3 separate regions of the Homo sapiens genome follow, and all the other regions are reported to be linked to region 3. Evidence: microRNA targets listed by miRTarBase, many of them from high-throughput screens and not tested one by one. Region 3 holds a microRNA gene; each other region holds the end of a gene's coding sequence.
Evidence for each region. Region 3 holds the annotated microRNA hsa-miR-6876-5p (CAGGAAGGAGACAGGCAGUUCA, at 2,815-2,836, shown strand). A microRNA usually pairs through its seed, bases 2 to 8, with sites in the 3' UTR of a target mRNA and lowers its output. Matches are read on the target gene's strand: a 7mer-m8 pairs with bases 2 to 8, a 7mer-A1 pairs with bases 2 to 7 and ends in A, and an 8mer does both.

Region 1: the mRNA of SDK1 is a reported target of hsa-miR-6876-5p. Seed matches in the 3' UTR shown: 7mer-m8 at 1,079-1,085, 7mer-m8 at 2,182-2,188, 7mer-m8 at 2,195-2,201, 7mer-m8 at 2,220-2,226, 7mer-m8 at 2,224-2,230, 7mer-m8 at 2,232-2,238 and 4 more.
Region 2: miRTarBase lists CHORDC1 as a target of hsa-miR-6876-5p. The part of its 3' UTR that is shown has no 7-base or 8-base seed match.

What each region holds. Positions count from the first base shown.
Region 1 is chr7:4,264,998-4,268,997 of GRCh38, forward strand. It overlaps SDK1 (sidekick cell adhesion molecule 1), which reads left to right. Exons shown (of 45, transcript NM_152744.4): 45 at 127-4,000. The coding sequence ends at 387. Among named protein-coding and RNA genes, the nearest start is that of FOXK1, 420 kb to the right of the region's middle.
Region 2 is chr11:90,198,638-90,202,637 of GRCh38, forward strand. It overlaps CHORDC1 (cysteine and histidine rich domain containing 1), which reads right to left. Exons shown (of 11, transcript NM_012124.3): 11 at 1,792-3,914. The coding sequence ends at 3,768. Among named protein-coding and RNA genes, the nearest start is that of CHORDC1, 22 kb to the right of the region's middle.
Region 3 is chr8:25,342,593-25,346,742 of GRCh38, forward strand. MIR6876 (microRNA 6876) reads left to right here and starts at 2,810; the gene lies at 2,810-2,882. DOCK5 (dedicator of cytokinesis 5) reads left to right here. Exons shown (of 52, transcript NM_024940.8): 26 at 2,883-3,019. RefSeq lists enhancers at 2,759-2,818, 2,801-3,095.

The DNA of each region.
Region 1 (4,000 bases), not on the chromosome of region 3:
GGGAGAGGGCTGGAGACCGCGACACACGCCCCTGGGGAGGTGCCCCCACCGCCAGGCCTCCTGCCCAGCACGCTCCGGGCCCTGCGCCCTGCCCTGCACTCACACCTTCTCTCCCGCTCCCCGCAGGCCACGGACTCTGACTACGAGGACGCGCTGCCCAAGCACTCCTTCGTGAACCACTACATGAGCGACCCCACCTACTACAACTCATGGAAGCGCAGGGCCCAGGGCCGCGCACCTGCGCCGCACAGGTACGAGGCGGTGGCGGGCTCCGAGGCGGGCGCGCAGCTGCACCCGGTCATCACCACGCAGAGCGCGGGCGGCGTCTACACCCCCGCTGGCCCCGGCGCGCGAACTCCGCTCACCGGCTTCTCCTCCTTCGTGTGAGCAAAGCGCCGCGCCTCCCTCAGGGCGGAACGGAGGCAACTTTCCGGAGTCTATTTTTGTTAAGACAATCAACTCCAATAACTGAGCTGAAGTTTTTGTTTAAAAAGAAAAAAATCTGATAAGTGATGATTTTACCTACTTGTGGACACTAGATTTCAATTAGGAAGGTTTTTTTAAACGGCTTTTTGTAACTTCGCTGCAGGAAGCAGGTTTGTTTCTTTTTCTTTTCTTTTTAAGAGAAGGTGTATTTCACTGGTGCAATGGCTTGGCACCTCCGGGGCCTGGGAGGACCTCAGACCTCCCCAGCCCTGGGTTTCTCCGTCTTCAAGACCAACTAGGAAGGGTCAAGCGGGGAGAGGGAGTGGAGGGTCAGGTGAGATCTCAGAGCTGCCCCGGCCGGCCCCCGTCTCTTTCTACCTCCTCTTCCAGAGAACCAGCGGCTCACACCCTTCTCAACGCAGGACATCCTCGGCGGCTCCTGGGGTTTGAAGAGCAAACGTTTTTCCCTGGGCTCAGTGCGTTTTGTCCCAACTTCATCTGTTTCTGAAATGTTCTCACTTGGCAGTGTCTAGTCAAGGAGTCGGCTTTCAGGTTCCTGACGGCCAGGCAGGGATGCTAAGGTGTGGCTCAGCCGTCACTGTCTGTGTCACTGCAGTGGTGCGGTCCTCAGGCTTTTCTGCCTGTCTTTCCCCCTTCCTTCTCACCTGACAGCGAGGGAGAGGGAAGCCTCTTAGGGCTGGAAGCCACCACGCTGGCCCTCTCCTTCCCCGAACACAGCACACGGTCAACTCCGCGGGACACGAGGACACGGGACGGCGTCTCCAGAATTGCTTGTTACGTAGGAAGCGTGCATTGTTAACCAGAGTATTTTTAAAATCTTTTTATCTTTTTTTAAACTATGTCACATGAAATGAATGCGTCTTTGCTGTCTCCAGGTGCCTTTTTATTAATTGTTCAGCTTTGTACATGGGAAAGATGAAAAGCAACAGTGTCTGCAAATAAAGCAAAACAGCTCTGAGAACACACGCTCCCGACTCGCCTCGTGCACACCAGGCCGTCCCCTCCCTCTGTCCTGGCTTCTGCTGGCTGCTCGCAGCAGCCACCGCTTCTCCACCACTGGCGCTGCTGCTGCCCCCTCTCCCAGTCCGAGGCCAGCTTTTAGCCTTAACAGGTTTTTTGGAAATGTTTCTTTTTTTTATTTAAAATTGTCATTGTTTGGTTTAAATTTTTCAGCTAGATGAAAAGAGTATGAACTACTTTGGAAAACTTAACAGCTCAGAGATGGCCATGCCTCCAGCCCCTCACGTCATCTTTGCAACAGACGACTGGGCTGCCATGGTCCACCCCTCAGCCCGGGTCCCGGGTCTGGATGGAACGGGAGCACTGCTGGTGCCCACTGGCGTGTGTGCCCCGGGTCCCTGTAAGTGCCCCCTCACCAGCAGCAGCGTGACACACACAAGACTCAAGACCACCCTGTCAGTGCCCCCCAGTGCACGGCAAACGGGCAGGTGCCGTTCCCCCAGTGACCTGAGGGTAGGGGACAACTGAGCAGTATCTGACCAGTGCCACCCAGGAGCCAGTCTCCTGGCCACATGCAGAAAGTGTGGCCCCTGCTTACCTAGATGTTTTGTGCACCTCCATGGGCAGAGGGTGTGGATATTGCCTGGATTCTGTGCTGTCAGCGTTGCTGAGTATGGCCCCAGGAGACCAAGGAGAGTTTTGTATAGGCTGGAAAACCCCTTTTCAGTCTTTCCAAAATTAGAGGGTATGGCAAGTTTCCTTTTTTCTCTCCTCCCTTCCTTCCCCTCCTTCCTTTCCTTTACCCCTCCTTTCCTTCCTTCCTCCCTTCCTCTCTTCTTTCCTCCCTCCCTCCCTCCTTCCCTCCCTTCCTTCCTCTCTTTCCTCCTTCCTTCCCTCCCTTCTTTCCCTCCCTCCCTTCCTCTCTCCCCTATTCCTTCTTCCTTTTCTCCTCCTTTTTCTGAGTGGAGGGGGAAATATTCTAAACCAAAAATCCTAGATGCTCTGCCCAAAGCCACTTCTGCATGAGAATCGCAACCCACAGTTCCCCGGATGAGACTCACCACAGTGGACAGTGCCACCTCCTTCCCCTCGGCCCCGGAGAGGGCGAAGTGGGCGGGAAGCCAGGATGTGAGCACTGGAATTTCTTGGAAGAGAAGCGATAAATGGAGACCATGGCCAGCGCTGCTTTCTGTGCACTCTGATGACTGCTCTCTGCAGCCATGAGGATGTGGCTTTACATGCCAGGGAGAGTGTTGAGACGTCTTAGGTTGAGGATGAGCAGATTCGAGATATGTTTGTTGCTCTCGGGTTTTCGATACAACATCATGACACTTCTGTTTCAAGCTCATGTTTTCCGTCTCCCCTCCACTCTTAGTAAACCTTGATCTGTACGGAGCGGCCTGTCCGAGGCTACGCCGGCCTCCTGGCTGCTGCTGGACTGTGCTTAGGACAGCGCCCATGCCTCGGAGGGACTCTGTCCCATGAGAACCACCTGTGCAAAGGAACAGAGCTGGATGTTTCCAGGTAGATTTTGGCCTCCCAGAGCAATGCGGCATTTGAGAAGCAACAGTTCCTAACTCCTTATCTTCAGGGAAGGAAAAGAAAATCACAGCCTAGGAAGATGGAGGTTGGATTTTAATCTCGGTTTTAAAAAGAGGACAAACAAAATGTCTCTAAGCCAGGCTAGATGGAATGTGCTCCCGCTCTCTCCTGCCGTGCTGAAAGTCATGCCTTGCGGATGCCTCATGACAGCAGTGGCTGAGTCTCCCCACCCACCCCCAACGTGGCTCATTTCAGATTGCTTCGGCCCCACCCTGCAAGGATGTGGTCACGGAGTGGCCAGGAGGCTCCGTCTGAGCCACAGGGATGGGTGTGCAGAGCTCCCTCCTCCTGGGGTGCCAGGGCAGAGATTCCAGGCAGGTGAGCCCAGAGAGAGCTGCCAGGCCACACCCCCTCGGCCTCCTGCACGGCCACCTTCTGGGTGAATCGGTCCAGCCCAAGCCCCTCTCCCCAGCCTCGCCTTCAGCCTCTCTCCCAGCCTGCTTTTATAAGGCGCACTTCACTCAATGCTGTAGCCAAAAAACGAGGGGCCCCAGGGAGAGGGGACCCAGATGGCCACACACGGAACGCGCCTCCACAGCCCCGGGAGGTGGCTCACTCTGTACAGGTCTTCGGAGGCCGTGTTTGTATCTAACTGTGACTGGGCTGAAGCATGATGTTTGCCTAATGGTTCGTAGCATGGTTTTTATTTCTTACGCATTCTTGGCACACAGTGTAGCTATCCTCCTGACGAGCAACCCGTCTGCGTACCTAAGTGTGGCTCCCCGTGGGTCAGCGTCCTGGTAGCATGGATCCAGTCTGAAAGGTGAGGACAACGTGGAAACTCATGAGCTGAGCCTGCCCGCTGGGACACGTCTCCTTCCCGCGTCACCTTCTGGTTTAGGGAGCCGTCAGGTCCCTAAACGTTCCCTACAACTTTTTCTGAAATTGTGCAGAAAAACAGATCTCATTAAAAGAAAAAAAGAAACAACTTGTAGGAAGACAGAGAGGTGCTATGGGTACAATTTTTAATAAAAACATTATTTTGTTCCTT
Region 2 (4,000 bases), not on the chromosome of region 3:
TGCCTAATGAAAAAGGAATGGCAAATTGAATTATTTTGACACATAATCTTTAAGAAACATAAAAATGTTTAAGGCTGGAAGTTATATTTCTTTTCAATGGACATTAAAGGTGACCCACTAAACGGAAAAACTAAGAAAAGTCATTGAGTTTTTAGTGAAAACATGGTCTTCAGAAAAACTGTTCTTAAAGATAATCTTCACAATGAAGAATTCTGTTAAAAAGTTAAAGAACATGCAGAAGAAAACCTCTGCAAGCCTGGTATTTTAGAGATAGTGCCATATGTATAAAGCCATAGGCATATACGTAACTGAAGAAGGCAAGCCATCCAACACCACCAGATTAAGTTGTTAAGATACCTGGGCAGTAGGGAAGCAGTCAGGGATAATTAACAACAACAACAAAAAACCTATCAAACAATCAAAACAAATGAAACAGAAAACCCTATTAACAAAACCTAAAAACAAGCTGGGCTTAATAGCTTGCATTTCAAAACTGAGGCCATGGAATTATACTGGTGAAAACAAAGTAAATAACAAATATGAATGCCAAGTCAAAATAATTTGCCATAAAAGATGAACAACAAAAAAAAACCCTGTTAATGTTCAAATAGATAATTTAAAAGTACCTGACTGCTAAAAACAAAATTTACAGAGTACATACCCATATATCCTAAAAGGGACACCAGCCCTCATAAATGAGCTTTTAAGAGTTTACTTGGCCGGGCGCGGTGGCTCACGCCTGTAATCCCAGCACTTTGGGAGGCCGAGGCGGGCGGATCACGAGGTCAGGAGATCGAGACCATCCCGGCTAAAACGGTGAAACCCCGTCTCTACTAAAAAAAAAAAATACAAAAAATTAGCCGGGCGTAGTGGCGGGCGCCTGTAGTCCCAGCTACTTGGGAAGCTGAGGCAGGAGAATGGCGTGAACCCGGGAGGCGGAGCTTGCAGTGAGCCGAGATCCCGCCACTGCACTCCAGCCTGGGCGACAGAGCGAGACTCCGTCTCAAAAAAAAAAAAATAAATAAATAAAAAAAATAAAAAAAAAAAAGTTTACTTACTGTGAGTATACGCATGACATAAATTTTCAGGCTGAGGAATAACTGATTAAAAAAAAAAAAAAAATTGGGAGTTCGGAGAGGGGAAATAACTCAAAGTCCCTTTAAAATATTTGCAAGAACTCTTTAAGTTTCTCTACACTTTGATGGTTGAATAATTTTCTGAAGAAAATTCTTAATTAAATCCTTGCATAAAATATAAATTAGAATAAAGTAAAATCATTACAGTCCTTTGCCAGTATAGTTACACCAAGAAGTTACATCTTCAACCTATAAACATTTGTTGATTCCTAATCATATCTTAATTGTTTATAAATTACTGGCTTAAATTATTACCAAAAAAGTAGGACAAGTCTTAAGACCTTGAAGAATTCCACTAAAAACAGATGGTAAAAATAAAATGTTCTACTTTAGTTAATAGTATTATACAAAGGTTAATTTCTTAAGTTTTATAAATGTTCTATGATAACGTAAGATTTTAACATTAAGATTAATATAAGACATAAAGAACTGTTGTATTTTTACAACTTTTCTGTAAACCTAAAACTAGGTCAAAGAAGTTAAATAAAGGCTCAGTTTATTAGGATCTTACTTCCTTTATACTAGTAAATGTGCTATGAAAGAAAAATAGCATTTTAGGTTTCCCATCTTTAGTTACCAAGTATATATATAATATACCTAACTTTGACTGCTTTGCTATAGTAATTATTTTTAATGCTAAAAAAGACAAAGCAAATTTCTAGAGAAATAAATCAATAAGCACTTTTTATTAACTTTTTTGACAAACCGATAGTAAAACATATGCTACCTAACGATAACTGTGTCCCTTTATGTATGAGTCTAAGAGAAATATTCGGATTTTTATCTGGACAAGAAATTCAAAGGCTCCTTAAGAAGAAAGTAAATACCATGGTCACTAATGTAACCAGACTAAATATAAAAGCTACATATGTATGTGTGTGTGTGTGTGTATAAATCAATGTTTTGATCAATGTAACTAATCTGAGGTTACAATAACTCACTGCTTCAAATAATATTTCAATTACATGTAACAGATTAAGATACTGTTTAGGGGAAAACAGCCTCAGAAGGAAGTATGAACAAAAAGGGATATTAATCATTACCTTTAATCAAACTAATTATCAACCTTTCCCCCAACCCATAAAGACTTCATGTCTCTAAATGGTTCCTAAATCATGGAAGATAACTTGAAAAATTTTAAATACATCTCCAGGTATCAGATGCTTATGTACTCCATGTGGGTCCAACTTTTACTGCCCAGAGTTTCTTGTCATGGTAATGTAACATCATGAAAGTCTGGTTGCCAGATCTTTATGTTTTTATTTGTAACAGAGCTAAACCTTTTAACAATTATATTAACTACAACTAAGTTATTTGCTAATGGTAGTAGAATGATACATATGTTTTATTCACGAAAATAGTACTTCTGCAAATTTTTCTTTGTAAGAATTCCATAAATACCAAGGAAAAGAAAAGACTCAAGGGGTTTGGGAAATAAACCCCTTTTAATTTTAAATCTACATAAGTTTAATTTATTCCCAAACTTTCTAAGTTCTTCCAGAGTTCTGGCCTTCAGAATATTTCCTAATTTTTCTTCTTGAGTTCTGCACTAACTCAAAACCTATCCAAACGATCTAATTCTGTATTACCTATATTTAATATAAAGTACAATATATAGTCAACATTGTATCACTAGAATTGTGAAGCTCTTCATGACTTTAAAAAAAAACTCCAAAACAATTAAGCTATTTTTATTTAACATGTAATAGTCATAAAGCAACTCCATATATTTAGTTTTCTGATATCCTAATGTATTTCCACAAACCTTTTAAGTCTACAATTTTATATAGTTTTCCATCAGGGAGGCAAGATATATATAATTTCTTTTTATATTTAACTAAAGGTTTTAAGAGGGCTTAGTCTCTAAATCAGTAACAATTAGTCATAACACCATACAAACACATTTAAATATTCAGGAAAGAGGTTGTTAAGATTATTGCTTAGTCTTATAAAATGGTGAATTTTAACCAAATTGATACCTCTGTAATCTTATTTATGTTTCCTATAACATCATACTGCTTGGCAAGTAATGTAAGTTTTGACATAATTTAAAAATTCAAGTAGTTGTAAACAAATTCTAATTTGTTAAACAATTCATATATTCCCCTTTAGTTACTATACTACCTCAGAATTAATCCTCCTTAAAAAAGTAATCATCCCACATAGAAAAAACTGCAGAGCTTCATCTCTTCCTTAAATATTTTCAAGTACTGTAAGAACACAAATCCATGAAAAAACTGATTAAAATTTGACATTTCATCTTGCTTTACTAATTATGGAATAATACAAAAACATAAAAAAAATGTTCCTTAATATTTCTTTGCTTAACAGAGAAATACAAAGAAATACTGCAATTATGGTTATGGGCTACTTTCCAGCCTCTTCAAGTATAGGACACAACTATGGTTCCTACCAGTAGGGAGAAATGAATAATCAATCTTACATAACACAAAAGAAAGATGAGAGGCACAAAAAGACAAACTGACTTTGGCTTTTAAGAACCTAATGTTAACCCTGAAATGCCACATTCAGTAACACAACAACAAAACAAAAGATTACAGCAGCAAGCCACCACTTCACACAGTATTAAAAATTCGGAAATAATGTAATAGCCTTCCTTCCATCTCCCACTCAATCTGTTGTGGCATCTTTTTGTTTTTCCTGCTTTTTAGCTGCAGGCAGTTCAAGGCTTGCCCACTGCATCGGTTCAGCTTTTCTCATAGTGATTTCAATCTTTGTTGCAGTCATAGTTACATAACTTCGCTTTACATCAATCACCTGTAACATATCAAAGAGAATTACAGGAAACCTCAGTAGTTTTATTAGTCTCAGAGGAAAACATCAGACTTGCTTATGCCAATAAT
Region 3 (4,150 bases):
CTCCATCTCAAAAAGCTAAAACAAGCTGCTGCATGCTGAGATGACAGCCCCATTTCTGCAGCTAACACTTGGGTTTTGTTGTTTGTTTGTTTTTTCTTGTTTTTTTTTTTTTTTTTTTTTTTTTGAGACGGAGTCTCATTCTGTCACCCAGGCTGGAGTGCAGTGGCGCAATCTCGGCTCACTGCAACCTCGGCCTCCCAGGTTCAAGCAATTCTCCTGCCTCAGCCTCCCAAGTAGCTGGGACTACAAGGACCTGCCACCAAGCCCAGCTAATTTTTTTTTATTTTTATTTTTAGTAAAGACGGGGTTTCACCACGTTAGCCAGGATGGTCTTGATCTCCTGACCTCGTGATCCACCCGCCTCGGCCTCCCAAAGTGTTGGGATTACAGGCGTGAGCCACCGCGTCCGGCTTGTTTGTTTTTTAAGACGGAATCTCACTCCCTCACCTAGGCTGGAGTTCTGTGGCACTGTCTCTGCTCCCTCTAACCTCTGCTTCCCAGGTTCAAGTGATTCTCCTGCCTCAGCCCCCTGAGTAGCTGGGATTACAGGTGTACATCACCACACCCAGCTAATTTTTTTTTTTTTTTGTATTTTTGGGAGAGGGGGGGTTTCACAATGTTGGCCAGGCTGGCCTCAAACTCCTGACCTCAAGTGATCTGCCCAACTTGGCCTCCCAAAGTACTGGGATTACAGGCATAATTACCGTGCCCAGTCAGCACTTGACTTTTCTTTTTTAAAAATGTCATTAATATTCTTGCCAGTTGTTTGTTGGCAACATTAATATTGTTGCCAGTTGTATGTAAGGACCTCCTGGGAGAGCGGTTTTAAGGAGAATCTAAAGTCAGCTCGGTATTTCCAACAGTTCCTAAAAGAGCAAAATCATGTGTTCCTTAATCTTTAATTAGAACAATCTGCAAGTGGTTCATTAATTAGAGAATTTTGTCTTTAAAACAGGAACCTCAGGAAGTAACAAGCAAGTAGGAAAAGATGACCCTTTTAAAAGAAATTATTCTTCTTTAGTCTATACTTATTGCATGACCTTAAAAACCAGGGGACAGGGAAACAGCAATGTGTTGGATCCCACAGGAGAGCTGGTTACATGCATCCCTTCTCAACCCCACGTTCAGTGATATCACATTAGTAGCTGGAAATTGACCATGGTGGAAGTCTTTACACCAGGGTAACTGGCAAACATGATAAAGCAAGCGTTTTTTTGTTTTGTTTTGTTTTGAGATGGAGTCTCACTCTTTCGCCCAGGCTGGAATGCAGCAGCATGAACTTGGCTCACTGCAACCTCCACCTCCCAGGTTCAAGCAATTCTCCTGCCTCAGCCTCCCAAGTAGCTGGGATTACAGGTGTGCACCACCATGCCCAGCTAATTTTTTTTGTAATCTTAGTAAAGCCAGGGTTTCACCATGTTGGCCAGCTTGTCTCAAGCTCCTGACCTCAGGTGATCCACCCACCTTGGCCTCCCAGAGTGCTGGGATTATAGGCATGAGCCACTGCACCTGGCCAAGCTGTTTTCTTTAGGGGGTAGGCTGGCAGAAGCCAGATTACTAGTATTCTGCTGGGAGAGGAGTGGGGCATGGAGGGGAAAAACTCTTACACTGATAAAATACTTTTCATTTTGTAAGTAGAGTCTAGCAAATAGCCACCAAGTGTTTCTGTCCCAAAGCTGATATAAACAGGAGGTCCAGCACCTGGGCCTTCCCAATAAACTCAAGACTTGCTAGAGTGAGGCAGCCACGGAGACTTCTTCTGGGGCTAACTACCTGGTCAGGGGCTCCCAGAGTGTAACCTCATTTTATGTATGTATATTGCCTGGAGATCTGAAGACCAGCAGGACTCCTCAACGTTAAACAAGTTGAGTGGATTGTTGGTGGGAGAGCCTTCCTGGCTTTGCCCCTGGCTAGTTATGTAACTGGACAAATGAGTGGCCTTCTCTAAGTCTCAGCCTCCAGTTCTGTGGAAGGAAGGACTTGAGCTAGATCGTATCAGTAGCCTCCTTGGGCTCTGATATTTTCTGACCCTATGAATTTGCACTTTGAAATTGCAAATGTTCCTAAGACACAATTGGAGGTAGAGGTAATGCCTGCAAAAGGTTAGTGAATGCTCATAAGTAGAAAACATTTATTACTAAAGCAAATTATTACTAAACATTTTAATATGCTTTGATCACTTTTTAAGGATACAGAAAAGGTAATTGAGATAGTAAAGATAAGGTGTTTGAGCAGAAGAGCAAGCATGCACTGGATAGTTCTACTTAGAGTGTGATCACGGTTAACAGTCATTTCTGTAGCATTCAGAGTACCTGAACTCATTATAAAATGTGTTACAATAGCAAAGATCTCAGAAGACATAATAGGTCATACCTTACTTTCTGAAATCCACACGCCTGCACAGACATGAGCAGAATGTCATTGACATGTACTAGGGAAGCTCAGTATTTATAGGAACTTTATTTATAGGAACTTCTTTCAGTAAATTTTCTCCATTAGGTGAAAAAATTTTTGAAAAAAAAAATGTATAACTTGCTTGGTTTTATTTGTTTCATATGACCCTCAATTTCGTGCATTAGGTTGGCGTTTTGAAAAGCTAGAGAAATTGTTAAATAATTTAAACATTTTGCTAAGTTCCCACCTTCACCTGTGAGAAGGGTCATTTTTTTTTTTTTTAATTCATTCATCTGCGCATTGAACAAGGGTAAAGTTCCGTGCCTAAAACCAGGTGTTCCTGGGTGGCCTGGAGGGGCTGCATCCCTGCAGGGCTGATTGCAGAGCTTAGAGCTACTGGTACTGGTCGAGGAAGAGTTGCAGGAAGGAGACAGGCAGTTCAGGAGGTGGCACTGCTGTGTGTGAGCTGTCTGTGTTTTCCTTCTCAGAGTGCAGAGAAGTGCTGCTGCCACTGCTGACAGACCAGCTCAGCGGCCAGTTAGATGACAACTCCAACAAGCCTGACCACGAGGCAAGCTCGCAGCTTCTGAGCAACATCCTGGAGGTGCTGGACAGGAAGGATGTGGTGAGTTGAGTCATCACTGATGCTGCACAGAGTTCACACTGTCCCCTTTGCACCAGACAGGAGTGACTCCGTGGCCTTCCTATTCTCAGGTAGTTTCCAGCTCCGGTATTAGGGCAGGCTGTGCCCATTTTAGAGATAATTAGGGAGGCCAGAGCCTCCAGTGCAAAGTCAGATTACTGCTGGGGCCTTCTGCAGGCTGATTTTCCTGGCTTGCCCAGTGTGCGCACTATTGAGATCCCTGTGACTTTTTTTTTTTGAGAGGGAGTCTCGCTCTGTCGCCCAGGCTGGAGTGCAGTGGCGCGATCTCGGCTCACTGCAAGCTCCGCCTCCCGGGTTCACGCCATTCTCCTGTCCCAGCCTCCCGAGTAGCTGGGACTACAGGCGCCCGCCACCACGCCCGGCTAATTTTTTTGTATTTTTAGTAGAGACGGGGTTTCACTGTGTTAGCCAGGATAGTCTCGATCTCCTGACCTCGTGATCCACCCATCTCGGCCTCCCAAAGTGGTGGGATTACAGGCATGAGCCATCGCGCCCAGCCCCTGTGACTATTCTTAAGAATCAAAGACCTGACTGGGCATGGTGGCTCAGGCCTGTAATCCCAGCACTTTGGGAGGCCAAGTCAGGAGGATCACTTGAGTCCAGGAGTTCAAGACTGACCAGCCTGGGCAACTTAGTAAGACTTTGTCTCTCTAAAAAATAATAATAATAATAAAAAATAAAGAATCAAAGGCCTTTCTGTTTTTATGCAGACACCTCTTCCTTCTTATCCTCTGATGCCTAACAACCTGATATTTCTGAGCTGCTGAGAAGTTCTCATTTCCATATCCTCTTGGACACTGATACTTTCTCTGGAACCTAATGGAAATTATGTTTTCTCATCTTGCGTTTTCTCTGTGACCTGGCCCCCATCCCTCTTGAAAACACAGGGCTAAGGCCGGGCGTGGTGGCTCACGCCTGTAACCCCAGCACTTTGGGAGGCCGAGGTGGATGGATCACGAGGTCAGGAGATCGAGACCATCCTGGCTAACACAGTGAAACCCTGTCTCTACTAAAAATACCAAAATTAGCTGGGCGTGGTGGCACGCGCCTATAGTCCCAGCTACTCGGGAGGCCGAGGCAGGAGAATCCCTT